2 separate regions of the Homo sapiens genome follow, and region 1 is linked to region 2. The links come from fine-mapping of genetic effects on gene expression. A gene starts in region 2. The other region holds a variant in brackets. All regions are shown on one strand. Distances are between the middles of the regions.

Region 1 (15,714 bases), 27 kb before region 2:
CCTGCCTCGGCCTCCCAAAGAGCTAGGATTACAGGTGTGAGCCACCACACCTGGTGATCCTGTCTAATTCTTCTTTTATTTTTATTTTTATTTTTTTTGAGACGGAGTCTCGCTCTGTCACCAGGCTGGAGTGCAGTAGTACGATCTCAACTCACTGCAACCTCCGCCTCCCAGATTCAAGCAATTCTCCTGCCTCAGCGTCCCGAGTAGCTGGGACTACAGGCGCCCACCACCACGCTCAGCTAATTTTTGTATTTTTAGTAGAGACGGGGTTTCACCATGTTGGCCAGGGATGGTCTCAGTCTCTTGACCTCGTGATCCACCTGCCTCAGCCTCCCAAAGTGCTGGGATTACAGGCGTGAGCCACCACGCCCGGCTTGATCCTGTCTAATTCTTAAAAGCCGGGTGCACTTCCTGGGTTGGTTTTCATTCAGGTCACCAGGAGAGCCAAGAGCCTGAGAGGCTCAGATGAGACCCATCCTGGTGAATAGTTGGTGCTTTGCTACGCAAAAAAGTCACTGTGAAGTCTGCTTCTGAATCTTAACATTCCCCTGGGAGTCGGAAGCCCCACAGTTGTAGAGGCACCTGTGGTTTGTTGACTCGGACTCCGTTTCTTCTTGGGGAGAATGAGCAGGCGCTTTCCCCTGCAGTTCTGTGTGGATCTCTGTGACCACCCCATTCGGCCCCGCATTTTCCAAAGCCCACAACATTTTGTAACCTAATCCAGAGGTTGCAAGCTCACTGCTCGCAGGCCAGTGAGAAACACAGACTGATATTTCAGTAAAAGAATTAGTGGCCATCATTTAAAATCAGATTTCCCATTGCAAGTCTGGATTTCTGACTTCTCATGAAAATCTTGGCTCTGGCAGTACTGGGTCTGGTTTGCACAGCTGCCTGGTGCTGGGAAGAGTCCCTTTCATCCCTCCCTTTTCCTCCCCTGCCCTGAGGTGCGGGTTTCATTCTCATCCATCACTGTGTCAGAGGCGTGTGAACCAGAGCAACTCCATCTTGAATAGGGGCTGGGTAAAACGAGGCTGAGACCTACTGGGCTGCATTCCTGGACGGTTAAGGCATTCTAAGTCACAGGATGAGATAGGAGGTCGCACAGGATACAGGTCATAAAGACCTTGCTGATAAAACAGGTTGCAGTAAAAAAGCCGGCTAAAACCCACCAAAACCAAGATGGCCATGAGAGTGACCTCTGGTCGTCCCCACTGCTACACTCCCACCAGCACCATGACAGTTCACAGATGTCATGGCAACGTCTGGAAGTTGCCCTATATGGTCGAAAAAGGGGAGGCATGAATAATCCACCCCTTCTTTAGCATATCATCAAGAAATAGCCATAAAAATGGGCAACCAGCAGCCCTTAGGACTGCTCTATCTATAGACTAGCCATTCTTTATTCCTTTACTTTCCAAATAAACTTGCTTTCACTTTACTCAATGGACTTGCCCTGAATTCTTTCTTGGGTGAGATCCAAGAACCCTCTCTTGGGGTCTGGATCTGAAACCCTTTCTGGTATAACAACTGGGCTCGTGCCATTGATTTCCTGATCATAGTTGAGTATCGTTCTCTACCTGTGTGCTCTATTTAAACTGGGAAACCACAGAAAGAAACAGAAACCCACAAGTGTCTTCAGTCTGGCCCACATCACCCACTGCCATCACCTGCTCTATACAATTTGGTAACCTTTCTTTTCTTGTTTTTATTTTTTTATTTTTTTATTTTTTGAGTTGGAGTCTGACTTTCTCACCCAGGCTGCAGTGCAGTGGCGTGATCTTGGCTCACTGCAACCTCCGCCTCCCAGGTTCTAGTGATTCTCCTGCCTCAGCCTTCCGAGTAGCTGGGGTTACAGGCAGCCGCCACCATGCCCAGCTAATTTTTGTATTTTGAGTAGAAATGGGGTTTCACCATGTTGGCCAGGCTGGTCTTGAACTCCTGACCTCAGGTGATCCGCCCGCCTCGGCCTCCCAATGTGCTGGCATTACAGGTGTGAGCCACCGTGCCTGGCCTATATCAGACTTACATTAAAAAATAATAATAATAAAAAAAATAAGGCCAGGCGTGGTTGCTTATGCCTGTAATCCCAGCACTTTGGGAAGCCAAAGTGGACAGATCACCTGAGGTCAGGAGTTCGAAACCAGCCTGGCCAACATGTTGAAATCCTGTTTCTACTCAAAGTACAAAAATTAGCTGGGCGTGGTGGCAGGCGCCTATAATCTCAGCTACTTGGGAGGCTGAGGCAGGAGAATTGCTTGAACCCGGGAGGTGGAGGTTGCTGTGAACCGAGATCACGCCACTGCACTCCAGCCTAGGGGACAGAGCAAGACTCCATCTCAAAAAAAAAAAAAAAAAAAAAAGAAAAGCAATTTACACAGGATGAGCATGTTCCCCTTGGCTCCCTCTCTTCTTTCTGGCCAGGTTTGTGTCTAAAGGCACAGTGAACAAGAACCACCTTCCCCTAGATTAAATGCCAGGATTCACGTGCCATTCACCACTGAGCAAGTATGATGAGTTAGACCTGCCATTCACAGGTCACATGTTTCCCTCTGTCCAGGAACACGCATTCCCCGATGACATGAGACACCTGCCCCGTGGGCTGCGTGTGAGCTTGGAGCTCAGTGACTGGTGGTGGAAAAACCCAACCTTTACCTTTAGGGAACTGGCCGTCATCTCTGCTAGGCGGGAAGGCAGTGACTGCTGTCACGTTTCACTTCAAAGATGACCGTGTTTCGAAGAGGGCAAGTGATATTTGGAGTCAAGTGGCGGGAAAGTACTGGATTCTTCGAAGGGGAGGAAAAAAAACAGTGTCAGCATGACTGTCTGGGGACTGCTGACCTAATGATGTGTCCCCAGGGCTACAGCCTGAGTTTCTGCGTCATATGCACCGGGGAGAACATTCCATTGAGCCACGCTAACACCCCCAGCAAAGTCTGAAGTGGTAAAGGGAGTTCAGTGACCATCCGCTTAGCTCTTGGAGTGAGGGCGCCTTCTGGGTCCTTTCCTAGACACCCCTTGGCCACCTTTTTCCACCTGTTTTTCCGAGTGAGTGCCATCGTCACCTACGTGAGCTGCGACTGGTTCAGCAAGAGCTTTGTGGGCTGTTTTGTCATGGTGCTGCTCCTCCTGTCCCTGGACTTCTGGTCTGTGAAGGTGAGGCCCTTTCGTGTGATGTCATCACTTCCGAAACACGAGGCTTGTCCCCTGTGTGCGTGGTACCAAGAGGTACTTTGGTTTAGACTCCTGAGACATGCTTAAGAGTGCTGAGCAGTGTCACTTAAAAGTAAGGGGAATGGAGAAACCCCGTCTCTACTAAAAATACAAAAATTAGCCTGGCGCGGTGGTGTGTGCCTGTAATCCCAGCTACTTGGGAGGCTGAGGCAGAAGAATCACTTGAACCCGGGAGGCGGAGGTTGCAGTGAGCCGAGGTTGTGCCATTGCACTCCAGCCTGGGTGACAAGAGTCAAACTCTGTCTCGGAAAAAAAAAAAAAAAAAAAGAGAGAGAATGAGAGCCAAGTGAGAGGGGTTTCCCTTATAAAAACCATCAGATCTCGTGGCACTTATTCACTACCATGAGAACAGTGTGGGGGAAACTGCCTGTATGATTCAATTATCTCCCACCCGGTCTCCCCCACAACACGTGGGAATTATGGAAGCGACAATTCAAGATGAGGTTTGGGTGGGGAGACAGCCAAACCATATCACTTGTATACGAATTAATACATATATTTAAAACATATATAATATGAACATATAAATTATATATGTTTTGTGGGGGGAGTGTGTAACTTTTTAAAGTAAGCTTAGTTGAAAACTAGAAGTCTTGACATCTGAGAATCCACTACAATTCAAGGCCTTTTTTCTTCCTGCTCCCAGTACAAGTCTGAAATGAATCAAGGAACTTTTGTTTATCAATACAGTGAATAAGCCTCTTTGCCTGTGACCTGCTCAGAGTCCTTTGTCTATTGTTCTCAGAATGTAACCGGAAGACTCCTGGTGGGCCTTCGATGGTGGAACCAGATAGATGAAGATGGGAAGAGCCACTGGATCTTTGAAGCCAGGAAGGTATTCTCCATGACGAGCTGAACTAACCAGAGCGGGGATAATGGGTGTGGAAAGTTTCTGTGGGTTCCTTTGGAGTTTTGTGCATATCTGATTCCTGCCTTACACAAAAGCCACCATTGCCAAGGTGCTCTGGTGAAACATGGGTGTGGCAAAAGTGTCTCCAAAATAGACCGGGCGTGGTGGCTCACGCCTGCAATCCCAGCACTTTGGGAGGCGGAGGTGGGTGGATCACTTGAGGTTAGGAGTTTGAGACTAGCCTGGGCAACATGGTGAAACCCTGTCTCTACTAAAAATACAAAAATTAGCTGGGCGTGGTGGCAGGCACCTGTATTCCCAGCTACTCGGGAGGCTGAGGCAGGAGAATCACTTGAACCCAGGAGGCGGAGGTTCCAGTGAGCCAAGATCACGCCACTGCACTCCAGCCTGGGTGACACAATGAGACTTTGTCTCAAAAACAAAACAAAACAAAACAACACCAACAACAAAAAATCCCACAGCAACAAAAGCATCTGCAAAATAAAATAAATGAAAATGTGAGCACGCTCGTTTGCAACCATTTCCACTTGTTTTGACATTTGAATTACTTTCCTTTAACAGGTCTCTCCGAATAGCATTGCTGCCACAGAAGCTGAAGCACGAATCTTCTGGCTGGGCCTCATAATCTGCCCCATGATATGGATTGTGTTTTTTTTTAGCACCTTATTTTCCTTGAAGCTAAAGTGGCTGGTAAGGCCAGATCTTGACTTCCACATTGCTTTGATGTCTCTGCAAAAAAAGTGTTTGCACCACTAGGCTTTTGTTGTTATTTGTTATTGATTGATTGATCAATTATAACAAGTTTATTGAGATATAATACACATTCCATACAATTTACCCATTTAAAGTATACAATTAGGGGCTTGGCATGGTGGCTTACGCCTATAATCCCAGGCCTTTGGGAGGCCAAGGTGGAAGGATTGCTTGAGCTCAGGAGTTCGAGACCAGCCTGGGCAACATAGCAAAACCCCATCTCTGCAAAAAATGCAAAAATTAGCCAGGCATGATGGTGTGCACGCTTGAGCCCGGGAAGCAAAGGTTGCAGTGAGCCAAGATTGTGCCACTGCACTCCAGCCTGGGTGCTAGAGTGAGACCTTGTCTCCAAAAAATAAAATAAATACTAAGTGTGGAATTCAGTGGCTTCTAGTGCAGTCACAGAGTTGTACAGCCAAAACCACCATCAATGTTAGGAAATTTTCATCACCGGAAGAAGCCTTGCGCCCTTTTGACATTGCTTCCCTGTGCTTCTGTTCCTCCAAGCCCTGGCACCTATTAATTTTTCTGTTTCTGTGGATTTGCCTATTCTGGGCATTTCATATAAATGGACTCACACAGGCTGGCACAGTACCTCACATCTGTAATCCCAGCACTTTGGGAGGCTGTGGCAGGTGAATCACCTGAGGTCAGGAGTTTGAGACCAGCCTGGCCAACATGGCAAAACCCTGTCTGTACTATAGATACCAAAATTAGCTGGGCGTAGTGGCACACGCCTGTAATCTCAGCTACTTGGGAGGCTGAGGCAGGAGAATCGCTTGAACCCAGGAGGCGGAGGTTGCAGTGAGCCAAGATCGTGCCACAGCACTTCAGCCTGGGTGACAGAGTGAGGCTCCGTCTTAAAAAAAATCAATAAATAGAGAAAACAAAATATTTGTAGATAGTAAAACAACAGTGTCATTTAATGAAAGTGCGGGCCCTGGAATTTGGATCCCGGCTCGACCACGCTCCAGCTCTGTGACCTTGGGCAGCTTTCGTCTTCCTGAGCCTCAGTTTCCTCTTTGTAAAATGGGATGATGATGGTGGCAACCTCTCCAGTTGTAATGATTCTGAGGTGTCCGTGGGTATTTGCAAATGCTCAGTAAATGTTGGCTGTTACTATTCTTAGGTGCAGGCTAGAGCATTTCTACGTGGCTTGAGAGGTGCATTTCTGTAAATGCTCTTAGAAAGTGACCTTTGCGTCAGATGGAGACCATCCTGGCTAACATGGTGAAACAGTGTCTCTACTAAAAATACAAAAAAATTAGCCAGGCCTGGTGGCGGACGCCTGTAGTCCCAGCTACTCGGGAGGCTGAGGCAGGAGAATGGTGTGAACCCGGGAGGCGGAACTTGCAGTGAGCTGAGATCGTGCCTCTGCACCCCAGCCTGGGCGACAGAGCGAAACTCTGTCTCAAAAAAAAGTGACCTTTGCTTTCTTTGTCTGAGTGCAGGCTCTGGTGGTTGCTGGGATCTCTCTCCAAGCTGCAAACCTGTATGGCTACATCCTTTGTAAGATGGGAGGCAACAGTGACATTGGCAAGGTCACAGCCAGTTTCCTGTCCCAGACAGTGTTCCAGACGGTGAGTAACTGAGGTCTGACTCTTGGACCACTCCTCTCCAGGTAGTCAAAGTCAAGGTGGCCTGCTGGCAACTGCGGTTTGTAATGTAACATATCCGCCAGGCTGCCAATGTTTTATTGTTTATATATTTTTTGGGAGACAGGATCTCGCTCTGTCACCCAGGCTAGAGTGCAATGGTGTGATCGCGGCCTATTGCAACCTCCATCTCTTGGGCTCAAGCGATCCTCCCACCTCAGCCTCTGGCACAGTTGGGACTACAGGTGTGTACCACCATGCCTGGCCTTTTTTTTTTGTAGAGACGAAGTTTTGCCATGTTGCCCAGGCTGCTCTAGAACTCCTGAGCTCAAGCAGCCCGCCTGCCTTGGCCTCCCAAAGTGCTGGGATTACAGCCATGAGTGAGCCACTGTGCCTGGCAGTTTTGTTTTTTAATTGTAAGATTTACATAAAATGTACCATTGTAACCATTTTAAAATGTATAGTTCTGTGGCATTAAGTATAACCACTTTATTGTGCAACCTTCACCCCACCCAGCTCCAGAACTGCTTTCATCTTGCAAAACTTAAGCTCAGTACCCACAAAACACTAACTCCCCCTCCTCCTCGCCTCCTAGCCCTAGCAACCAGCATTCTGCTTTCTGTATCTATTGGTTTGACAGCCCTAGGGACCTCCTATAAGTGCAATTATAGTTTTTGTCCTTTTGTGACTGCCATTGTTAGTTTTCAGTGATTTTTAAAAGTATAGAATTAAGGAAAGAGTCACAAACGGTTTTTCAATTTTTTTTTTTTTTTTTTTTTTTTTTTTGAGATGGGAGTCTCACTCTGCTCCCAGGCTGGAGTGCAATGGCATGTGTTGGCTCACTGCAACCTCCGGCTCCGGGTTCAAGTGATTCTCCTGCCTCAGCCTCCCAAGTAGCTGGGATTACAGGTGCATAACACCATGCCTGGCTAATTTTTGTATTTATAGTAGACGGGGTCTCTCCATGTTGACCAGGCTGGTCTCGAACTCCTTGCCTCAAGTGATCTACCAGCCTTGGCCTCCCAAAGTGCTAGGATTACAGGCGGGAGCTACCGTGCCCAGCTTGTTTTTGTTTTGTTTTTTTTTTTTAACTTAATAGATATTTCTAAAAGTGAGAGACAGAAGTCTTTGAAATTTGACCAGGTTCATCCTGAAATGGGTAGAACCGTCCTAAATTTGAACAGCACTGCTTTATGCCAAGACATCAAGCAACCAATTCCGCAGGTTTTCTGTACTTTGTGGGTTTTCTCTGGCCTTCCATCAGCAGGATCGCCCCACTCGCGTGTAAGGACAGAAAACCATGGTTGACTTTTCCCCTTGCAGGCCTGCCCAGGTGACTTTCAGAAGCCTGGCCTCGAGGGGCTGGAGATTCACCAGCATTAGGTGAGAAATGGATCATGGCACCCGTGTGGAGGAACTGGGGAATTCTGAAAAATGCAGCTCTTGGGGCACAGGGGCCCGGGGTCTGGGTGGGCTTCCCCTGTTCCCTGGGGTGGCCAGGCATGTGACCAGGCAGGAAGCAGACTGGGCAATGGGCCTGCCCTGGGCTTTGCAGCCTCATTGCTCTTGGCGTGAGGAGCTGGGGGTCGGGGGGCGAGGTCACACCTTCCTCACACTGAACATGTGCAAATCTGATCATATGTATGGTCCTAGGGAAGGGCGGGGAGGGAAGAGACAAGGGAGGGAAAGAACAAGGGGATTTGTTCTTGTTTCCCACCCACCCACTTTTATGCCCCAGAGTGGAGGGAAAACAGGAATTTACTCTTCTCCCACGTGGTCTCAGATCCTGTGTGTCTCAAACAGAGCAAGCACCTCATGGCAAAGAGGATGATCGTAGAGTTTACATCTGTCCCTCTTTTTTATATAATTAAAAAACCTGAAAGTTGGTTTGCATGACACTGGACATTACTGGATATACTGTGCACATATTACTACACAGGGAATTTACACAGACCCCACATTCTGTCTTACTGGGTGATTCAAGGACTCTTCAAGGGCTTTTTGATTTGACCCAGCTGTGTCATATGCAGTGATTTTAGAACGAAGCCCAGCCTGAGCTCTGTTGCTTTTAGATTTTTCCTCAATCTGAAGAAAAGCGTTTGGACTGTGGTGTTTGAAAACAAGCCTGTGTGTTCTGCAGTGAAGCCGCACACTCACCCCTTTGGTTCTTTTCTAGGCTTTCTTATCTTCACAGGCAGAAATGGCTTAAACGGGAGTTTCTACAATCGACTAAGCTTCCGACACAGCAGAATCCCACGATCCCACAACCCATTTGTTTTTTACGTGAAACAGGCCTCGGGGGAGAGATTTGAGGGGGTTTTATTCTTAAAACGGCACATTTGTAGAGAATGCCCTTTATATATGTTCTAAAGAAAAGTGTACAAATACTCAATGATTAAAGTGTCTCTGAGAAAGTGGCTTCGGACCACACCAGCATCTGGTCCTTTTGCTGTGACCCACC[C/G]CATCCCGGAGCTGGTCGGGTCTGGCTGGATGTGCTGCCCAGTGAGTGCCTCGCTCGGTAACTGCTTGGTCCTGAACATTCTCTCGTTTCAGGAACTGATGAGGTTCTCTTCTTTTGACTGATGGAGATTACAAAACTCTTGGATTCCTGGAAAACAAGACGACAGGCATAGAGTGCTAATGGCTTGTCTACCCCTTGACAGCCCTGTCCTGTGCTGGGGAGGGCTGTGTTTTGACAGGGGTGGAATCCTCTGGCTAGTTCCATAAAAAGACCTGTGTCTGTGATGCCCTGAGTCTTTGAAAGTGACCGGAATACCTCACACTACCCATCTTGCTCATAACCAGTGGCTGCGGCCTTCCTCGGACCATCTATAGATGGAGGATTCTGGGAATGCTGTTTCCTTACCCTTGACATCATTCTTCTAGGCAAGTAAAACCCAGCCACAAACTCAGAGACCACAGCTTTAACAAACACTGACACCTCTGCCCTAACTCTGGGGCCTCTGATGGCTGCCACTGGCTGAATGTGGCCTGCACGTGGGTTTGGTCTGGCTCAACAAAGTTTTTATTTTTATTTTTTATTTTTTTGAGACACGGTCTCACGCTGTTGCCCAGGCTGGAGTGCAGTGGCGCGATCTCGCCTTACTGCAGCCTCCGCCTCCCAGGTTCAAGCGATTCTCCTGCCTCAGCCTCCTGAGTAGCTGGGACTACAGGCATGCGCCACCACACCCGGCTAATTTTCATATTTTTAGTAGAGACAGTGTTTCTCCATGTTAGCCAGGCTGGTCTTGAACTCCTGACCAGCCTCAAGTGATCTGCCTGCCTCCTTCACCCAAAGTGCTGGGATTCCAGGTGTGAGCCACTGCACCTGGCCTTTTTTTTTTTTATCAGTTACTTTTAAAAATGAATTACTTTATCCCTTTATTGGGATGTATTTCCTAAGCCATAAATTTCACCCTCACCATGTTTTTTAAACTATGAATTAATTCACAATACTCACACATTGAGAGATTTCTCATGGACTCCTGGCTTCCTCGGCTATGGGGGCCACTCTGTGGTCATCACAGACCCCACCACCCACCTGTCCTTCCACACCCCTGGCTCCTTTATGTTGCTTCCTGCCCCACAGGCATCTGCATTTAGTACTCATGGAAATACTTACTCTGAATTATACTTCTGTAGGCTAACGTGGCTGGGGAATCTGGGGCGTCAATGAAAAAAGACTGGCCTTTGTCACAATTCTTACCTTAAAAAAGAAACAAACGGAAGACAATTCAGTCCAAGAGGAAAACAGAATGGCCACAAGATCTTGGGGCTCTTTCCGTGCTGGTGACAATGGGAAGATCTTGAGCCCGCTTCACTCGTAATGAAGAACAAAGTAGAAAAGACCAGTGGGGTCTCAGGGACCTTCCTTCCAGCAGGGTCCCCAGCCAGCATTTCAGCGTGGCTAAATAATCAGGTGGTGTACAGAAAATGCAGGTTCCAGGGCCCTACAGAGAACTGATTCAGCAGCTTCCACATGGGCCCAGGAGTCTGCATTTTAAGAGATTAGCTTTTGAGTGAAAGGATCATGAATGCACATGGTTAAAAAAAGTACAGAATGCAAAAGGATATGGCATAAAAGGCCAAGTCCGAAAAGGGCTACTAGTGTTCTAGGTGTCTTTCCAGAAAGATTATGCGCATATAAATGTGCACACTTGCATGTGTGCGCACACACATACACACACTCTCATATACCTAAAATACGAATGGGAGCACATGACACACACATTCTGCCTGCTGCTTTGTCTGTGTATAATTTTATCTTCCAGGTCATCTGTGCTGGTGTCTATCAGTCTGCTAGTCTTTCCCCGCCATGTGGCCATTGTTCCAGTCCCCTCCTATGCACACCCAGGTTTCTCTAGGACCATGTTATCCCAGAGCCAGGTGGACAGGACACAAGGGGCTAGGGGTCAATGGGGGTGTTCTCGCCTCCAGTCTGCCCTGCCAGCCCCCAGTCGTGGGTGGACCTGCCATCAGCTTGCTCTGCCCACTCCCCAGGCCTGAGCTGCTGGCGAAACAGGCAAGTGACTGCACTGCCCATGGCCGGTCACCAGCCTCAGGTGAACCCCAGGAGGGGTTCCTACCTAGCACTCATCATTTCCTCAACTTCACTACTGTGTCGCCCTGTGGGACAGGGAAGTCCAAGTCGGGGAAGAAGCCTGTGGGGAGGGGTTGGTGGGAGATGGGGAGCCCATATGGCCCAGTGAGTCAGGAAAATAGGGTCCAGAGGCAGGGAACATAAGGCCAATTCGCACTTGAGCCATAACAGGAAATGTCCTCTCCATAGGACGTATGCCGTAAATGACTTTGTAACTTTACTTCATCCTTTTCGTTTATATAGGGCGTACCTCAAGTAGAGGGTATTTAAACACAAAAACTCTGTAATGGGGCCTTTGAGCCCCTATTCTCAGGCCCGTTCTCCTCCCACACCGTGGAGTTGACTTTCATTTTCAATAAATCCCTTCCTTCCTTCCTTTCTTTGTGCGTTTTGTCCAATTTTTTGTTCCAGACACCAAGAACCTGGACATCCTCCGCCGTTAACGCTGGGCCCATGAGACCATGTGGAACTCGCTAGGGAGGCCCCTGAGTGCACGTTCGCTGGGCCAGACCTGGGAGGTTGGGGATCCCAGAATAGTCATGCTGGGGCTACTTTCTGTCCCTGACTTTCACCCAGGTCTCCCTTCCCCAGAGGGCTCCCCAGCCCCCAACACACATATATGCTCTAGTGTTTTCCCTTCCTAACTGCATTTCCCCCTGGGCTCCCACCTCTCCAAGAACGGGCAGCATTATCAGAACAGCTGGTGTGAGCACAGCCCTGTTCCAAGAGATCCCAGGCATCCTCTCACCCCACCCTGGCAGATCCCTCTCACTAGGCACCACTGTCACCTGCATTTTACACACGGGGCCATCGAGGCTGAGAGCGGAAATGACTAGCCCAAGTCCCACAGCTAGTGGTGGCGGAGCAGGGCTCTGAGGCCAGCCCTTCCTGTGATCCTCAGCACACCGGGACCAGGACCCATAGCACCAGAGCGCTGGCATCTGTAACTCTTTGCCACCATGTCCCCAGAGGAGACTGAAGTGCTGTCCTCATGCCTTCCTGTCTGTTCCTAGGAAGGTGGGTTTTCCCCCACTCTGTCCCCAGTGACCTTGCCAGATGCGTGTCTGTCACTTGGCCCTCATGCTCCACCCTCTTGGGTGGGTGACAGTGTTAACCACCCCTTCCTTTCTGGCACTCCCTGGCCTTGCTATCTGTGGCTTCCCCTCAAGGTGAGCTTCTGCAATGTGCCATTTGACACACAGGACCATGCCCACTAGAAGGCACTTAATGTTCTCAGCTCAGAATGAGCCTCGCAGCTGTCACTGGTGGCTCCTCTGCTTTGAAATTAGCTCTTGTGAACCACCTGGAACTTTGTTTCTTTGTGAAAAGTGGCCCTGAAAGGAAAGACCAGGGCCAATGCCAGGGCTTGGTGTGAGGGAGGTGGGAAGATGGAGGTTGCTGGCTCTTTGGAAGAAAAGCCGTATCAGGATCTAATAGCCCCAAGGTCACTTCCTGATCTGTCAGACAATGGCAAGGGCAGGCCTGTGGCTGGGCCCGTGGACATATTTGGGTGGGTCAGCAAGCATGCCATTTTTAAATTTTTTTTTGAGACAGGTTCTTGCTCTGTCGCCCAGGCTGGAGTGCAGTGGTGTGATCATGGCTCACTGCAACCTCAACCTCCCTGGGCTCAAGTGATCCTGCTAACTCAGCCTCCTGAGTAGCTGGGACCACAGGCACATGCCACCACACTGGGTGAATTTTTTCCTTTTTTTTTTTTTTTTTTTTTTAAGAGATGAGGTATCTTCCTGTGTTACCCAGGCTAGAGCATGGTTGTGTGTGTGTGTGTGTGTGTATTTAATGGAGTTAGTTGCTATCATTTAGTATCAGGAGACTTTGGGTAAGGATATAGATTTCTAGCTCTTCATTAAACCTTGGAAAATGTGGCAATTGTGATGGCCATAAGGACACACCTCTTGGATCTCTGGCAGCAGCTGCCATGCTCCAAAATCCACCACCACGTTTGTGTTGAGGCAATGCCACTCCCAGGCTGCTCCTAGCTAGTGACTGAGACGAGCATGGCACTCGGGCAGGCACGCTTCTGGGAGATGCAGCCCCTCTGATGGGTAAGTGGGCTCAGGAATGCCCTGGTGGCTGTGCCCAGCTTTCCTCGACAGCAGCCAAGACACTCCAGCAGACAGATGCTCCAACAGACTGACATACTCCAGCAGACTGAGATGCTCCAACAGACTGACATACTCCAGCAGACAGATGCTCCAACAGACTGACATACTCCAGCAGACTGAGATGCTCCAACAGACTGACATACTCCAGCAGACTGAGATGCTCCAACAGACTGACATACTCCAGCAGACTGAGATGCTCCAACAGACTGACATACTCCAGCAGACTGAGATGCTCCAATAGACCTACTCCAGCAGACTGAGATGCTCCAATAGACTGACATACTCCAGCAGACTGAGATGCTCCAATAGACTGACATACTCCAGCAGACTGAGATGCTCCAATAGACTGACATACTCCAGCAGACTGAGATGCTCCAATAGACAAATACTCCAGCAGAATGAGATGCTCCAATAGACAAATACTCCAGCAGACTGAGATGCTCCAATAGACTGACATACTCCAGCAGACTGAGATGCTCCAACACACTGGCATACTCCAGCAGACTGAGATTCTCCAATAGACAAATACTCCAGCAGACTGAGATGCTCCAACAGACTGGCATACTCCAGCAGACTGAGATGCTCCAATAGACTGCCACACTCCAGCAGACTGAGATGCTCCAATAGACAAATACTCCAGCAGACTGAGATGCCAAAAAGCAAAGTACACTGAGGTGCTCCAGCAGGCTAAGATGCTCCCATGGGCTGAGATGCTCCAGTGGGCTGAGACGCTCCTTCGGGCTGGGATGCTCCCGTGGGCTGAGATACTCCTGTGGGCTGAGATGCTCCTTTGAGTTGGGATGCTCCCGTGGGCTGAGATACTCCTGTGGGCTGAGATACTCCCTTGGGCTGGGATGCTCCAGTGGGCTGAGATGCTCCTTTGGGCTGGGATGCTCCCATGGGCTGAGGTACTCCTGTGGGCTGAGATGCTCCTTTGAGTTGGGATGCTCCCGTGGCCTGAGATACTCCTGTGGGCTGAGATACTCCCTTGGGCTGGGATGCTCCCATGGGCTGAGATGCTCTTGAGGGCTGGGATGCTCCCTTGGGCTGAGATGCTTCCAGGGGCTGAGATACTCCTATGGGCCGTGATGCTCTTTCGGGCTGATATGTTCCTTCCCCCACTCCTTCATCGTGGGCTAACGCTCTCCCTTGTCATTTTCTCCCACAGATGTTTCCCCTGACAAACGTCCTGCCCACCAATCCCATCTCGGCAGAGCTGAACTGTGGCAGAGGTGCAGGCTGGCAGGAATGGATGTGCCCTGGGCTGCTGCAAGCTCCTGTCCCCAATCACATCCATTCATGCAGCCCAACTGCCTCCAGGGGCCTCAGAGGGCAGCTCTCATCACCACTTCCGGCCACTGCAAAAGCTGCCTGGTGAGTGTTTTATGATGCTGGGGAAGGTTGAGAAAGCAGCTGTACTTTTCTGCATGTTGTTGGGGAAATCACATGCCAGAGAAGTATTGTGGGATGTGGGAATAAGGGAAAAAGGATTTGGGGACACAGCCTCCTGGGCACATGGGGTCTCTGGCGTTCTCCCGGGCTGTTCCCATCTTCAGAGTGGCCCTCGCACCCTACCCCCCTACCACTTCCTCGAGGCAGCCATCCCCCAACACTGTCCTCCTGGCTCCCGCTTTCTGCACGGCCCCTTGGCAATCCTGTCCATGTCCTGTGGCTTCAAAACTCAACTGCACGGACATGAACCACCTTCTCCTGACGGACCCCAGAACCTGCTGACAACCTGAGCCCCCGAGCCCCTTAGCCGCAGCACCCCAGAGGGCCCGGCCTCCCTCTACCACCCCTGCTTCACTGTCTCTGAGGGACGGACCCTCCTCCAGGTGACTTGTACTGGCAGCAGGGACAACCTTGACCCTCAGATGCCGTCACTTTCTCTCTTGTGTGTGTCCCTTCCTTTCTACACCAACGCCAGAACCCAGGGCCTCATCCTGAACCCCTATCCCAGGGCAGCCACTCCTGAGCCTCCTGTTCCCAGGCACATGACACTGACAGTCGTTTCCCACAGGCTCCCATTCTCCCCATGCAGCCCTTCCCCAAGGCTCCCCACGTGGCCTCCGCCCTCCCCGCCTCCAGGCTCTCCACGGGCCCCGCCCTCTCCCCAAGCACGCGGCCCCCACCCTCTCCTGGCCAGGCCATACTTCACCCGCCCGGCCCCTCTCTCCTGTCCCGGCACAGACACCTCACACTGGCCTTGGTTCCCTGACAAATGGAGTGGAAGTTCCGAGGCATGGGTGCAGCCGGCACTCCTGGATCCCGGCCTCCCCTCCAGCCTTCTCTCTCTGTTCTCCCCTCAGACCTAAAGGCGAGTGCTGGACGCCCCGCAGGAGCCCCACTAAAGGGCCCCAGTAACGGAGGCCCGCCCGGCTCCGCGGTCCTGGGGGACAGCAGCCTCCTGGGGGAGCAGCTTCGAGTGTAGGCCCTGCCCAGCGCCCCGCGGCGAGTGGGCGCCCGGCGGGCGTGTGGGTGGAGACGTGAAACCCCGTCCCTCCTTCAGCCTCAGGGCCACTCAGGGAGTGGGCATCT
Region 2 (15,714 bases):
TCTGGGCCTGTGTTTGCAGCTGATGGGAAGAGGCCGCGTTTGCTGCAGAAGGTGGAGATGCTGCAAGGCTGTCGGGACCCAAAGCGTCTCCTTTACTCAGCACCCCAAACTGCCCCTGATGAGGAGGGTAGGGGAAGAGGGATTTAGTCCTAACTTTTAGTCCTTGCACAAGTTGCTTCTGCTTTCGAAGCCTTGGCTGTCTGGGCTTCTGATCTGTGAGACAACTGCTCCGGGGTCATCAAGGCCCCTCTCAGCTCTGCAGTCCCAGGACCCAGAGGAGGGCCTCGCACACTCAGTCCTGAAACACCTAGTGCTGACCTTGTTATGACAGTTTGCCTTTCAGATCACAAAGATCATAAATGTTTAATTTATGGTGGCTGGGTGTGGTGGCTTACGCCTATAATTTCAGAACTTTGGGAGGTTGAGGCAGGCGGATCACCTGAGGTCAGGAGTTCGAGACTAGCCTGGCAAACATAGTGAAACCCTGTCTCTACTAAAAATACAAAAATTAGCTGGGTGTGGTGGCACACGCCTGTAATCCCAGGTACTCCAGAGGCTGAGGCAGAACTGCTTGAGCCCGGGAGGTGGAGGTTGCAGTGAGCTGAGATCACACCACTGCACTCCAGCCTGGGCAAAAGAATGAGACTCCGTCTCAAAAAAACAAACAAAAAAAGTTTAATTTATGGAAGTTGGTGACTTGTTATTTATTCATTGTTTTTGAGGTAGAGTCTCACTCTGTTGCCCAGGCTGGAGTGCAGTGGCATAATCACGGCTCACTGCAGCCTTGACTTCCCAGGCTCAAGTGATCCTCCTACCTCAGTCTCCTGAGTAGCTGGGACTACAGGTGCTTACCACCACACCTGGCTAACTTTTTTTATGTTTTATGTTTTGTAGAGACAGGGGTCTCACTTTGAAGCCCAGGCTGGGAGTCGGTGACTTTTGCAGTGGAAGACAGTGTATGACTCTTGGCTGTCTCATGGCTCAGGCTTATGCTACAGAGGCTCCTTCTGCCTTCACCACAACTTACACACTCCCTGGGCAGCCTGTGACTCGTCAGGGGTGTTTTCTAATTCTGCTCTCTCTTGATCCAAGGCCCTTTGTGCCAATGAGATGACAGGCGCCTGCCTGCCTCAAGCGCTAACATGGAATGGTCTTGCACAGAGTTAGAGCCAAGCTTCCACCAGATGGCAGGCAGAAAAAGGTCAGGGCATGTCCCACCACCCTGCTGGATTTAGGGCAGGGAGAAATCTGTGCTGCTTGACTTTAATCAAGACATATTCAGCATTTTCCATGTGTTGACACTTTGCAGATAGTGATGTCACTGTCATGAGTAGGTCTGCCTGGGGAAAACACACTTTCCTAAATGCTGACTTCTTTTTTTTTTAAACCACCACTGCATAAAAAAATACAGCTGATCTAGCCATATTTCCACACTGAATGGTGTGCTTTCCTTCTGTATACTGCAAAGTCTAGACAGGCATGCAGCAAAGACTTCAGAACGTAATTACATGAAAGTGAAGGATGTAAACAGTTGTCTACTCACAAGTGGTTACTTGCAAGTGGTGAGATGAAAGCCCATCTCCAGTGAGCTGTTTAGGAATATTCCTGACAGCTTCGAAAAGCAAAGATTCTTCTAAACGATACAGACAATCTGAGAAAGCAGATTTCTTGGCCAGCCCACTAGGCCAGTACAGATTTGACCCTCAAATGGCAAGAGATCGCTGACTCACAGAATGACGAATCAACGTGTGTGTGTGTGTGTGTGTGTGTGTGTGTGTGTGTGTGTGTGTATGTGTCTGTGTATCTATCTATATCCTTTTTTTTTTTTAAATGGAGTCTTGTCTGTCACCCAGGCTGGAGTGCAGTAGGGCAATCTTGGCCCACCGCGACCTCCGCCTCCTGGGTTCAAACGATTCTCATGCCTCGGCCTCCCGAGTAGCTAAGACTACAGGCACGTACCACCATGCCCAGCTAATTTTTGTATTTTTTAGTGGAGACAGGGTTTCACCATGTTGGCCAGGCTGGTCTCAAACTCCTGACCTCAAGTGATCCGCCTGCCTCAGCCTCCCAAAGTGCTGTGATTACAGTGTAAGCCACCATGCCCTGCCCAACAAGTGTATTTTGAATCTGCCCAGTACTATACCTTGGGTAGGCTACAAACTCATCTCTAAGGCAGATGTAATCATCATCCCTTCATATCCAGAGAGTGAAATAAAGTAATAAAAATGGTGGCCATCACAGACCTTTACTGAGCATTGACTATTCGTCGGGCCCCGTGCTAAGTGCTTTACTGTGCCATCTCACTCAGTCCTTGGAGTCCCATTTTATAGATGAGAAAACGGAGGCAGAGTAAGCCTGGTAACTTGCCCAAGGTCACAGCAGTGGTGTAGATGGAGCTGGGACCTGAGTTTGGGCTGTCTGACTCCAGAGTGTGTGCTCTTAGCGACCCACCAACCCCTTTTATTAAAGTTGAGATCCAGAGGGCAGCAGTGGGTAATCTGAGTTTTCATGCTCGTCTGTATGCATGGGTGGAAATGAATAAACTCGTGTAAGGGCCAGCAAAAATTTTCCACAAGGGCCAACAGCAAATATATTATTAGGCTTTGTGGGCAAAATCAAGGATCATATGTAGGTACTTAGGTACTAATTTAAAAATTGCAATTTTAGGCCAGGCACGGTGGCTCATGCCTATAATCTCAGCACTTTGGGAGGCCGAGGCAGGGGGACGCCTTGAGTTCAGAAGTTCAAGACTAGCCTGGGCAACATGGCAAAACCTCATCTCTACAAAAAACCCAAAAATTAGCCGGGCATGGTGGCAAGCACCTGTAGTCCCAGGTACTTGAGAGGCTGAGGTGGGAGGATAGCTTGATGAGCCCAGGAAGTAGAGGTTGCAATGAGTCCTGATCATAGCAATGCACTTCAGCCTGGGTGACAGAGTGAGATCCTGTCTCAAACAAACAAAAAACATTTCAAAAATGTGAACATTCTTAGTTCAAAGGCCATAAGGCAGGAGATGGGCTGGATTTGGCCCACTGGCTATAGTTTGCAGGTCCCTGGCTTAGAGAAAAGCTAAAAGGGGTTAATAAAGAGGAAAAAGAAGCGTGAACGTAATGTAATAAACTATCCACATGCAAGGACAGATGTACATCTGCTAGCCATTTTCTTGGCTAGGGAATCCAGTGAAATGCTTCATTTGACTACTGGGCATTTCTTTGCTCTCTGCCGGATTGAGATTCCAAAGAGGCCAATTCAACTTAGTATAAGGAATCATTTTTTTTTCTTCTTGGACAGTCTCATTCTGCCACCCAGGCTGGAGTACACTGGTACAATCTTGACTCACTGCAACCTCTGCCTCCTGGGCTCAAGCGATTCTCATGGCTCATCCTCGCGAAAAGCTGGGATTACAAGCCTGCGCTACCACGCCCAGCTAATATTTTGTATTTTTAGTAGAGACAAGGTTTTGCCATGTTGGCCAGGCTGATCTCAAACTCCTGGCCTCAAGTGATCTGCCCGCCTTGGCCTCCCAAAGTGCTGGGATTACAGGCATGAACCACTGCGCCTGGCCTAGGAATCAGTTATTTAGTAGCCATCACGACCCTCAGACAAAATGAGCATCTCCCAGTGGTTCCTGAGGTCTCACCTGTGTGTTTTCATCCTCTGCTAGGCCATGGGCAAGGTGGGCGCTGAATGTGCTTTTCCCAACACCGCCTTTCCCAGACAATACCAAGATTTTGTGTTTTACAGTCTTCATTTTCTCTTTGATTTCCTCTATAGCTGCAAAGAAAACCAAAGTTCAGGGGATGAGGTCCCACACCAAACCTCGAATGTCACGCTTCCAGTCAACTAGAAAGAGCTAAGTCCTAGTCCTAGTACTAGTCCTGGGGCTGTTTAAAACGATCCTCTGAAATACCTCTCAGACAATGGTAGAAATAAGTGCTAGGAAGAAAATAAGGCTATTATCACACTTGAAGGGGTCTCATTTATTGGTTTACACGTTTGTCTCCCCCAACTAGAACATAGTCTCCACAAAGGTAGGAACTGTCTGAAGCTTTCAGTGCTGTATTCCCAGCTCCAGAAGAGAACTTTGCAAACAGCAATGGTCACCAACTTGGGGACAAAATCCCCCAGAGACATTTGGTAATGTCTGGAGACACTGTTCTTTCTTTCTTTTTTTTTTGAGACAGAGTGTTGCTCTGTCGCCCAGGATGGAGTGCAGTGGCGTGATCTCGGCTCACTGCAACACTGCCTCCTGGGTTCAAGCGATTCTCCTGCCTTAGCCTCCCAAGTAGCTGGGATTACAGGTGCCTGCCACCATGCCTGGCTAATTTTTGTATTTTTAATAGAGACGGTGTTTCTCTATGTTGGCCAGGCTAGTCTCGAACTTCCAACCTCAAGTGATCCACCCACCTTGGCCTCCCAAAGTGTTGGAATTACAGGTGTGAGCCACCATGCTCAGCCTGGAGACACTTTTCATTGTCACAGGAGAGGTACTGCTGGCATTTAATGGGTACAGCCCAGATTGTGCTAAATGTCCTACAATGCACAGGACAGCCCCCCACAACAAAGAGTGATCCTGCCCCAAATGTCAGCAGTGCTGAGGTTGAGAAACTCTGATAGACAGCAGGCACATACTAAGTATCTGCCAATGAAACTATCTTATTTCAAATCCTTAAAACAATACACGAGGTATAAAGGAAATTAAAAAGTCTCATGACTGGCCAAACTCAAGTGAAAGTTAAGCCTGGAAACCTCCCAACACTGCTGTCCTCCTCCCCATCAACAGACAGCTGTTACTTCCCAACCTTGTGTCAAAGCATTCTACATTAACCAGACACCTGCAAAAGGCCAAAGGCCCCATGCAATCCATTGTGGGATGACTGCCCTCACAAGTTGCTCCTAAGGAACTCCTTTGCTGGCCCCTAAATCTTTGAAGATGAGTATCCTCCCATAAACAAGGACATGCCAACTGTAACTTTAGGACTGTAACCTCAGTCTAACTCCTTCCCTATTACTGATGTCTGTTAAACGCCACACTGACCATGTCCATTACAAGCTTATCCTCCCACATGCCAAACAAAGATGGGATGAGATAGTCCTTCCTCTCCTACCCTGAGACGTCTGCCTAATTAATTCTTCCTTTATTCCCTCTTTTGAATGTTTACTTTATTTTCTGAATAGTGTAGATATACTGGGCACGAATTAAAACCTCACAAGAATGTAACTACCTGCCACGAGGCCTACTGCACTTTTTCCTGCATGCTTTTTCCCCTTTTAATGAAATATATAAACACCAGCCTTCTGGAACCACTCCATCGAGCACAGGCCACAGATGTTTCTGTCACTTGTATTTTCCAGGGCACGCCCTCAAGCTCTGGCCCAATAAACCTCCACTGAGGCTCAGTTCAGTCTCTCCATTGCATTGACAGAGATAACTATTTTTCTCTTCATTTTTTTTTTTCTTTGAGACAGGGTCTCACTCTGTCACCCAGGCTGGAGTGCAGTGGCACGATCTCAGCTCACTGCAACCTCCACCTCCCGGGTTCAAGTGATCCTCCCACCTCAGCCTCGAGGGCGGGCATGCACCACCATGCTGGCTAATTTTTGTATTTTTAGTAGAGACAGGTTTCACCATGTTGGCCAGGCTGGTCTCGAACTCCTGACCTCAAGTGATCCATCCACCCGCCTCGGCCTCCCAAAGTGCTGGGATTACAGGCGTGAGCCACTGCACCCGGCCTGTCTCCATTTTTGATGAGGAACCAGAAGCTCAGAGAGGTTAGGACTATTGCTGAAGGTCACACCGCATGGATCCAAGAATCAAATCCAAGTCTCTCTCTGAACTCCTTCAAGATTCTCCCCCTTGGCCAGGTGCAGTGGCTCATGCCTGTAATCCCAGCACTTTGGGAGGCCCAGGCAGATGCATCACTTGAGGTCAGGAGTTCGAGACCAACCTGGTCAACATGGTGAAACTCTGGTTCTACTAAAAATATAAAAATTAGCCAGCCGTGGTGGCAGGCGCCTGTAGTCCCAGGTACTCGGGAGACTGAGGCACGAGAATCGCTTGAACCTGAGAGGTGAAAGTTGCAGTGAGCCGAGATCACACCACTGCACTCTGGTCTGGGCTACACAGCAAGACTCTGTCTAAAAAAAAAGGGGGAAAAAAAAGAAAAAAAAATATTGTCCTCCTGCCTCCTGCTTTTTAAGGTCCTTCTGAGCAGGCTCCCTGGGTCCTCTCATCCTGGAATCTGTGCTTCACAGCACTTAAAGCTGCGGTGGTTTAGTTGCTAGCTCACGTGTTTGTTTCCCCAGTAAAGCTAAACTCCACTAGAGCAGTGACCACGCCTGATCCCCAGCTGTGTCCCCAGGACAGCACCAAACCTACGAGGCGATCAACACATTTCTGCTGAATGAGTGGGAGAATCACTCCTCAAAAGGAAGAAAATTGTGTCAAGAAAGTAGCTGGCAGAGCCAGGATGTAAGTCCGAAGACTCCCCGACTTCGAAGCTTATCCCGTTTTTCTCTGCGGTCTGTTATTGTCACTCAAACCTCTGGCCCCGACCCTCTTAATTAATGTCCCTTTCGACTCCGCGCCGGTCAGTCTCCACCCTCCATCCGCGCCAGGTCCTTCGCGCTCGCCTTCTAAAGGCCTCGTTCCTGTCAGTCATTCCAAGCTCCGCCCTCACCCTGCCCACTTTCCACGCCCCGCCCCTTCTGGGCCCCACCCCTCTCCGAATACAATACCTTCTAGCCTGCCGCTGTCAGTCATTCTGCAGATCCCGCCCCCTCCCTCCCACGCCCCGCCTTTTCCGGGCCTGCGCCTCTAAGTTCCTGTTGAGGCCTTGCCCTTTTCTCACCCGTGTCCGGAGTGGCCCCCGCTCCAGAAGCGCACAGCCGCTGGTTGGGGCATCCCTGACATGAAGCCCCTCTGCCCGCCTGGGCGCTGTCGGCCCCTGGACAGTCTGCGCAGAGACAAGACCACAGTTAGAGCAGCTCCCGACACTTTCGCCCCGCGACCCACGCCCCCTCCGCGAGCTTACCGTGAGGCACCTCCTCCATTCCGTCGCCTTTGCCGCCTTCGTGGTCACCGGAACCCGCTGTCGTACATTTCCGCCTTGTGGGCACAATCTGATTCTCCGACCGCGCGAAATAAGTCTCGGAAAGGGGGCTGTGCGCACGCGCGAACCTTGGGCCGAAAGACTGGGACTCAACGTCTGTTCCTTTTCAGAGATTTCCTATCATAAATACTTCTGCAGTGCATCTCCTAAGAACAAAGCCATTCTTCATGACATCAGTGCCATTTTCATACCCAAGAGATTTAATATCGATGCAGTACTAGCCAATGCAGTATTAGCCAATAGACAGTTTATATTTCAATTTCAGTTGTTAGACCCCCTCCCCTGCTGGATTCACTCACTGCCTGGAGTTATTTCTCTTCGGTCTCCTTTAATTCAGATCAGTCCTTCTTTTTTTAGGGGGGGTCTCATCACCTTGATAATTTTGACGGGTCCAGACCAGTTGTGTAATAGAATATCCCATATTCTTGATTTGTCTAATCCTCCCCTCCCTCTTGCCTTGTAATTAGATAAAGGTTAATTTTTCTTTTTTCCTGCAGAACACACTTGGATAATGTCAGTTTGTCCCGTTTTTGGTAATGTGAAGCTTGATCGCTTGCTAAAGGTGGTGTCTGCCCCATTTCTCCATTTAATGTTTCCTTCTTCCATTTGTAATTAACAGGTACTCTCTGGGACCATCTTCTTCTCTATCAGCCTTTCACTCAGTGATTTTAGCAGCATTTATATATATATATATAAAACTATAGATTATATATATGATAAATATATATCAGTTTTATACCCTCTCTTTTTTTCTTTTTTTTCGAAGACTCACTATGGATTCCTGGATTTTTTAAAATTGTCTTTTATAATCAATTATTATTCTTTCTGGTCGATTTTTTTTCCCCCAGATGTGGCCAGTGAAGCCCCTTCAAGACAGTTCTTATGTTCTTTGGGCACTAATCCAGCTTCTTTGAGCATTTTCTTGCTTTCTGATACAAGATGTTTCAGTCATCCCTTCTCCCTGCTGCAGTCATTTCTTCAGGGAGCCTTGGTTACTTTTTAGCAGACAACAGTTCAGAAACCAAGATGTGGATGCCACAAATGCTCATTGCTACTGGAGTGTCATTGCTCACAGGTTTGGCACCTGGAATATTAATGAGTGAACAAACTTTACCTAGCCCCAGACACTAAGAATATGGAAACGTTTATTTATTTATTTATTTTTGAGGCGGATTCTCGCTCTGTCACCCAGGCTGGAGTGCAGTGGTGGGATCTCGGCTCACTGCAAGCTCCGCCTTCTGGGTTCACGTCATTCTCCTGCCTCAGCCACCCGAGTAGCTGAGACTACAGGCCACCACGCCCGGCTAATTTTTTGTATTTTTAGTAGAGACAGGGTTTCACCATGTTAGCCAGAATGGTCTCGATCTCCTGACCTCGTGATCTGCCCGCCTTGGCCTCCCAAAGTGTTGGGATTACAGGCATGAGCCACCGCACCCGGCCTCGGAAACATTTATTAAACAGCAGTGTATCAGCTGCCTGTCACTACCACTAATTATAGCCAGCATTTTGTAGAATACTTACCGTTTGGCAGCTGTCATCTTTGTGCTTTCATGTGAATTACCTAATTTATGTCCTTTCATAGTCCTACTGTCTCCATTTTTGGATAAGGAAACTGAGGCTTAAAGTAAACTACTTTCCCGAGGTCGCATGACTGGTAGCAGGGGAACCAGGGTGATAAACTTGGTCTGTCTGGCTGCAGAGCCTGCACTTAGTAACACATGGTCCCAGCCAGCACTGGGCTAGATGCCAATGATTCCAGACTAACCTGGACCCTGCCATCTGGAGCACAGTCTGGTCGGGAGAAGAGGACCAGAGTGATGGGGCATCAGCAAAGGCCTGGAGAGCAGAGAGGAAGTCACCTATCAGGTAGGGACTGTTGTCATTTCCGTTTTACAGGTGATAAGATGGCTGCAAAGATTTACTTGTCCACAGTCTGAGAGGCAGAAAGAGCAGAACTGGGTTTTTAACCAAGTCTGATACAGGGCCTTTGCTATTAATCACTATACTGTATATTAGAGGGCAGGATGCAAGTTATTCTCCTTTTTATTTTTATTTTTGTGGGATGGAATCTCACTCTGTTGCTCATGCTGGAGTGCAGTGGTGTGATCTTGGCTTACTGCAACCTCCACCTCCCGGGTTCAAGCAATTCTCCTGTGTCAGCCTCCTGAGTAGCTGGGACTACAGGTGCCCACCACCACGCCTGGCTAATTTTTTGTATTTTTGGTAGAGACGGGGTTTTACCATGTAGGCCTGGCTGGTCTCGAACTCCTGACCTCAGGTGATCCACCCGCCTCAGCCTACCAAAGTGCTAGGATTACAGGTGTGAGCCACCGCGCCTGGCCAGGGCCGCTTCTTAAGGTGAGTGCTCCCCAAGACTCTGTTCTTGGGCCACTTCCAGTCCCACTTCCCACTTCCTCCTGGGCAAGCAACTGACAGCCCTGATGCTATCCATCTTCTGTCTCCAGCTCCCACACCTCTTGCTCCGTGAGTTCGGATCTGTGGATCCTACCTTGTGCCTATTGGATTTTATTGCATGGACATCCCACAAGCGTAACAAATAAACGTCTACAACTTCTTCTCAAGGCGGTTCCTGCCTCTGGATTTGTTATACCTGGACAGGGCATGACCCCTGGGCTAAGAACTCAAGCCGTAAATCTGAGTATCAGCCTTGTTTAGTTTTCTCCATCTCCATCAGTGATCAAGTGCTGTGTGACAAGTCACCCCAATATGTAGTGGTTTAAACCCACCATGGTTTATTGCTTCCTGTGACTCTTCTGGTTTCACCTGGGCTCCCTTAATGTGGCTTCATTCAGCTGGGAGTTGGCTGGAAGGTCTCAAATGGCTTCACTCTCACACTGGCCTTGATTCCCCCCTCGTGGCCTCCCTCTCTCATTTTTCAGTGGTCTAGCCTGTGTCCCTTTAAATGGCAGCTGGGAATGACAAAGCTGGGAAGTGGCAGTCACTTTCACCATGTTCTCTCGGTCAAAGTGTCACAGACACAGACTCCTCTTGTTGATTAGTGGGGTGGCGTACCTATACAGGGATGGGGGTCAGTGTTGTCCATAGAGACGCCCACAGCACCCCCTGCATCCAATCAGACATCAGGTCAGCAGCTGCACCCCTAGGTGGTAGGCTGGTAGCACACATGACCCCACTTCTCTCCCTGTCTGGATCTGTGCCCTTGGCTGCTGAACTTTGCAGTGCCCTCCCACGTGCGGGGAGGGGGTTCCATCCTACCCCTTGACTCTGTGCTCAGGCATGTGACTTACTTTAGCAAATGTGATTCAAGAAAAAGCTTGTAATGGGGCTTTTGCCTGTTTTAATCCCTCTCCAGCTCCCCTGCCACTTAAAGGTACACAGGCTAGGAGAAGGTCTGGGCTCGCCCATGGGAGGTGAAACACCTGGAACTGAGCTGAGCCACCCCTGTGCTCTCAGTGAAGGCCTCCTAAACCAGCGGCCCAAGACACATGAGAAGAGTCCAGCCAAGAGCTGCAGATCCACCCACCCAGACCCACAGATCCACCCATCCAGACCCACAGATCCACCCACCCAGACCCACAGATCCACCCATCCAGACCCACTGATCCACCCATCCAGACCCACAGATCCACCCATCCAGACCCACCGATCCACACATCCAGACACACAGATCCACCCATCCAGACCCACCGATCCACACATCCAGACCCACAGATCCACCCATCCAGACCCACAACTGGCCATAGATGCGTGAGTCCTGAAGAACCACCTGGCCAATGCACAGGCTGGTGAACTAGCTAAATGCTGGTGGTTTGACACTGTTGAGTTTGGGGTAGCTATAGACAACTGACACTCCATGCCTTCCAGCATCCCTCCTGCCTCAGCTCAGGCCCCCTCCTCCTCCTGGTCCTGCAACAGTGTCTGTTTCAGCCAGGATAGGCTAGTCTGCGCTGCCAAAACAGACATCCCCAAACTGAAGTGGCTCAAGGCAATCAAGTTTATTTTGGCATTTGCTCCATATGTAACTTCATGGACAGAGGTTCCTGCTCCCTGTGGTTCCTCAGGGACACAGACTGAAGCTCCACCGTCTCCTGTGGCCCCTTTTGAACACAGAGGACACAAGCCAGGGGAATTGTACCCTGATTCTGAAATGCTTCCACTAGAAATGACACCTATCTGCCCACTTTTCATTGGCTACAATTAGTCACACACGTCAGGTGCAGTGGCTCACACCTGTAATCCCAGCATTTTAGGAGGCCAAGGCAGGAGGATTGCTTGAGGCCAGGAGTTGGAGAACAGCATAGTGAGACCCTGTCTCTACAAAAAATTTAAAAATTAACTGGGCAAGGTGGTGCATGCCTGTAGTCCCAGCTACTTGGGAGGCCGAGGCAGGACGATTGCTGGAGTTGGAGGCTGCAATGAGCTGTTATCACAGTACTGCCCTCCAGCCTGGGCAGCAGAGTGACACCTTGTCTAAAAAAAAAAAAAAAAAAAAAAAAAAGGCCAGGCGCGATGGCTCACGCCTGTAATCCCAGCACTTTGGGAGGCCGAGGCGGGTGGATCACCAGGTCAGGTGTTCAAGACCAGTCTGGCCAACATAGCGAAACCCTGTCTCTACTAAAAATACACAAAAAATTAGCTGGGTGTGGTGGTGTGCGCCTATAATCCCAGCTACTCAGGAGGCTGAGGCAGGAGAATTGCATGAACCCGGGAGGCAGAGGTTGCAGTGAGCCAAGATTGTGCCACTGCACTCCAGCCTGAGTGACAGAATGAGACTCTGTCTCAGAAAAAAAAAAAAAAGGTTGGGCGTGATGACTCATGCCTGTAACCCAGCACTTTGGGAGGCCGAGGCGGTTGGATCACTAGAGGTCAGGAGTTCAAGACCAGCATGACTAATAGTGTGAAACTCCGTCTCTACTAAAAATACCAAAAATTAGCCAGGTACAGAGGCGCATGCCTGTAATCCCAGCTACTTGGGAGGCTGAGGCAAGAGAATTGCTTGAACCTGGGAGGCAGAGGTTGCAGTGACCCGAAATCACACCACTGCACTCCAGCCTGGGCAACAAGAGCAAAACTCTGTCGCAAAAAAAAAAAAAAGTCACATGGTCATGCCTAAAAAAGTATAGGAAGTACAGTTTTATATGACTGGAAGTGGAGGAAAACCAGATATCCAGGATCACAGTGATGTTTCCCACAGTTCCCTGAATTGTTTCTCAGTCTTAACATTCTTTCCCCATGAAAATCAGACCAAGTCACTCTGCTGCTCATAAACCGTCAGTGGCTCCCTATGGCCCACAGGATAAGGCCCAGTTTTCATATGGTGTTCAGTAGCCTGCATGACTCATTTTGACCCTTCCAGCCTGAGTGTCACTGAGAATATCGAGTCTATTCACTAAACAGCTGGCCTTTGCCTGGCACCCTAGTTCATTGCTGTCACTCACACAGGCCCTTCTGCCAGGAAAGGCCACTGCCTGTCTCTCGCCTATCTGGCTGTGGCCCAGTCCTCTGTGACAGGCCAAGTCTCAGCAGCATCTCCCCATGGAGGCCATTCCTGGCCTGCGGAACTGAACACACTGCGTTCCAGAAGTCTGAGCACGGTTTTCCATTCTAACAACTTCCGAAGTATGAATGCCATAAACTTAACAAAAATTAGCATTTGAAATTTTGTGTAATTTTCCTTTACACTTACTTAGTTCTGTGATTTTGAAAGACTAGATTTTAAATTTAAATTTAAATTTTTTTATTTCAGTTCCTCTGACTGAAGATGGTGAATAATGACTAAAAATGAAAGTTAAATTTACAAAGCTAAGTAAGTGCCAAGGATTTAAATAGACTTCAAAATAATTTTAAAAATAAATTAGTAAAACTATAGAGTCCGAAGATCAGGGTTGCTAGGAGTTCAGCGGGTGGGAGGGGATAAGGGGTAAACGGGAGCCCAGGGAACTTTTAGGGCAGGGAAGCTGCTCTGTGTGACTATGTAATGGTGGATGCATGTCATTATGCATTCGTCAAATCCCATAGAACGTACGACACCAAGAGTGAGGCCTAATATAAACCATGGGCTTTATTTAATAATAATGTGTCAATATTGGTTCATCAACTGTGACAAATGTACCACACTAATGCAAGATGTTAAAAATGGGGGAAACTGGGCAGGCGTGGTGCCTCATGCCTGTAATCTCAGCGCTTTGGGAGGCCGAGGTGGGTGGATCACCTGAGGTCATGAGTTTGAGACCGGCCTGGCAAACATGGTGAAACCCTGTATCTACTAAAAATATAAAAATTAGCCGGATGTGGTGGTGTGCGCCTGTAGTTCCAGCTACTCGGAAGGCTGCAAGGCAGGAAAATCGCTTGAGCCTGGCAGGCGATCTCACCACTGCCCTCCAGCCTGGGCAACACAGCGAGAATCTGCCTTACCAAAAAAAAAAAAAAGATTAGTGGATGAAACAAGACTAAAACCTGGTTACAGCGGCTAAAAATTTCAGCCAGACAGGGGCACTTTAAATATTCAAACAAGGTCAGCGAGCACCCTTAGAAAACACAGGAAGTGCCTGCGGTTCCTTAGTTATACCAGCAGGTGGAGCTCTCCCCCCACCTATGATCAAGGTACTCAGGCAATGGAAACAAAATTAAGTTTAGGTGTAGAAAATTTTCTGCTTCTTCCCTGGGATCCGGCAAATATAACAAGGGGCTATATACACACCAGGTGTTCAACACATAATTGAGTCGAAAAACAAGGCTCAGATGCATTATATAGAGAGAAACTGGAAAGGACGTGGATCCTTGAATGCCAGGTGTTCGCATTCAGGCTCCCTGTCTCAGTTTCCGTCTCTGAAAAATGTCAACAATAATATTCAAGGAATTATTGTTGGGAAGATTAAACAAGTTAATGAGTAAAACAGTTTTTTAGAGTGTCTGGCACTTTCAAGCCCTATATAGGTGTTAGTAATTATCAGTTTATTTCTTTTTTTAATGAGACAGAGTTTCGCTTTGTCTCCCAGGCTGGAGTGCAGTGGCACAATCTCGGCTCGCTGCAACCTCCGCCTCCCAGGTTCAAGCGATTCTCCTTCCTCAGCCTCCTGAGTAGCTGGGATTACAGGTGCCTGGCACCACGCCCGGCTAATTTTTGTATTTTTAGTAGAGACGGAGTTTCGCCGTGTTGGCCAGGCTGGTCTCGAATTCCTGACATCAGGTGATCCATCCGCCTTGGCCTCCCAAAGTGCTGGGATTACAGCCGTGAGCCACCACTCCCGGCCGGTTTATTTCTTAAGCTGCTTTGTTGAGGTATACCTGATATACAACAAACTGCACATATTGTAAGTATACAATTGCCAAGTTTTGACATATGTATGTACCCAAAGGTTTCCTTGTGGTCCGCTCTTGTTCTTTAGCAATCACTGACCTGTTTTCTTTCACTGTAGATTAGTTTGGATTTTCTAGAATTTTATATAAATGTAATCATACAGCATGCACGCTTTTTAATTCAGCTTCTTTCACTCAGCATATTTATTTTCGTTTCATCCACATTGTTGCGTGTATGAAGCTCGTTTCCTCTGGTTGCTATGTGGTATTCCATTGTATGATTATACTAGTTTATCTGTTAATGGACATTTGGCTGTTTCCAGTTTTGGGGTGTTACAAATAAAGCTGCCGTGAGCATTTTTGTGCAGGTCTTCATAGTGACGTGTATCTTCATTTCTCTTGCTTAAATACCTAGGAGTGGAATGGTAGATGTGCATTTAACTTTTAAGCAACTACGAGGCCGGCACGGTGGCTCATGCTTGTAATCCCAGCACTTTGGAGGCCAAGGCGGGTGGATCACGAGGTCAGGAGATCGAGACCATCCTGGCTAACTCAGTGAAACCCCCATATCTACTAAAAATACAAAAAATGAGCCGGGCATGGTGGCCTGTAGTCCCAGCTACTCGGGAGGCTGAGGTGGGAGAATCGCTTGAACCCAGGAGGCTGAGCTTGCAGTGAGCCGAGATCGCACCACTGCACTCCAGCCTGGGCAATGGAGCGAGACTCTGTCTCAAAAAAAAAAAAAAAAAAAGAAACTACGAAACTGTTTTCCATAGTGATTATGCATATTCACCTGCAGGATATGAGACTTTTAACTGCTCCATATTCTTGCCAGCAGTGGGTACAGACAACCTTGGATTTTAAATATTTCAATAGATGCATAGGTTACAGACAACCTTGGATTTTAAATATTTCAATAGATGCATACTGCTGTATTATTGTAGTTTTAATCTGCATTATTTTAATGACTGTGTTAAACATCTTTTCCTATTTATTTATTTATTTATTTATTTATTTTGAGACAGAGTCTCACTCTGTCCCAGGCTGGAGTGCAGTGGCCCAATCTCTGCTCACTGCAAACTCTGCCCCCCAGGTTCAAGTGATTCTCATGTGTCAGCCTCCCGAGTAGCTGGGATTACAGGCATGTGCCACCACACCGGGCTAATTTTTGTTTTTTAGTAGAGATGGGGTTTCACTGTGTTGGCAAGGCTGGTCTCAAACTCCTGACCTCAAGTGATCTGCCCACCTCGGCCTCCCAAAGTGCTGGGTTACAGTTGTGAGCCACCAGGCCCGGCCTGAACATCTTTTCATGTGCTCACTT

The links.
Region 1: its variant is fine-mapped to the expression of NUBP1 in whole blood (TOPMed, PIP above 0.99).

Annotation. Positions count from the first base shown.
Region 1 is chr16:10,762,394-10,778,107 of GRCh38, reverse strand. NUBP1 (NUBP iron-sulfur cluster assembly factor 1, cytosolic) reads right to left here. Exons shown (of 11, transcript NM_002484.4): 10 at 10,076-10,159; 11 at 8,757-9,061. The coding sequence ends at 9,003. It overlaps TVP23A (trans-golgi network vesicle protein 23 homolog A), which reads left to right. Exons shown (of 8, transcript NM_001079512.4): 3 at 3,012-3,156; 4 at 3,980-4,069; 5 at 4,667-4,795; 6 at 6,310-6,438; 7 at 7,777-7,836; 8 at 9,007-11,433. The coding sequence ends at 7,836. Among named protein-coding and RNA genes, the nearest start is that of NUBP1, 26 kb to the right of the region's middle. The variant C/G (reference allele first, on the strand shown) is at 8,915.
Region 2 is chr16:10,735,203-10,750,916 of GRCh38, reverse strand. It overlaps NUBP1 (NUBP iron-sulfur cluster assembly factor 1, cytosolic), which reads right to left and starts at 7,075. Exons shown (of 11, transcript NM_002484.4): 1 at 7,035-7,075; 2 at 6,852-6,956; 3 at 3,641-3,774. The coding sequence starts at 7,053. RefSeq lists enhancers at 7,217-7,266, 13,160-13,209.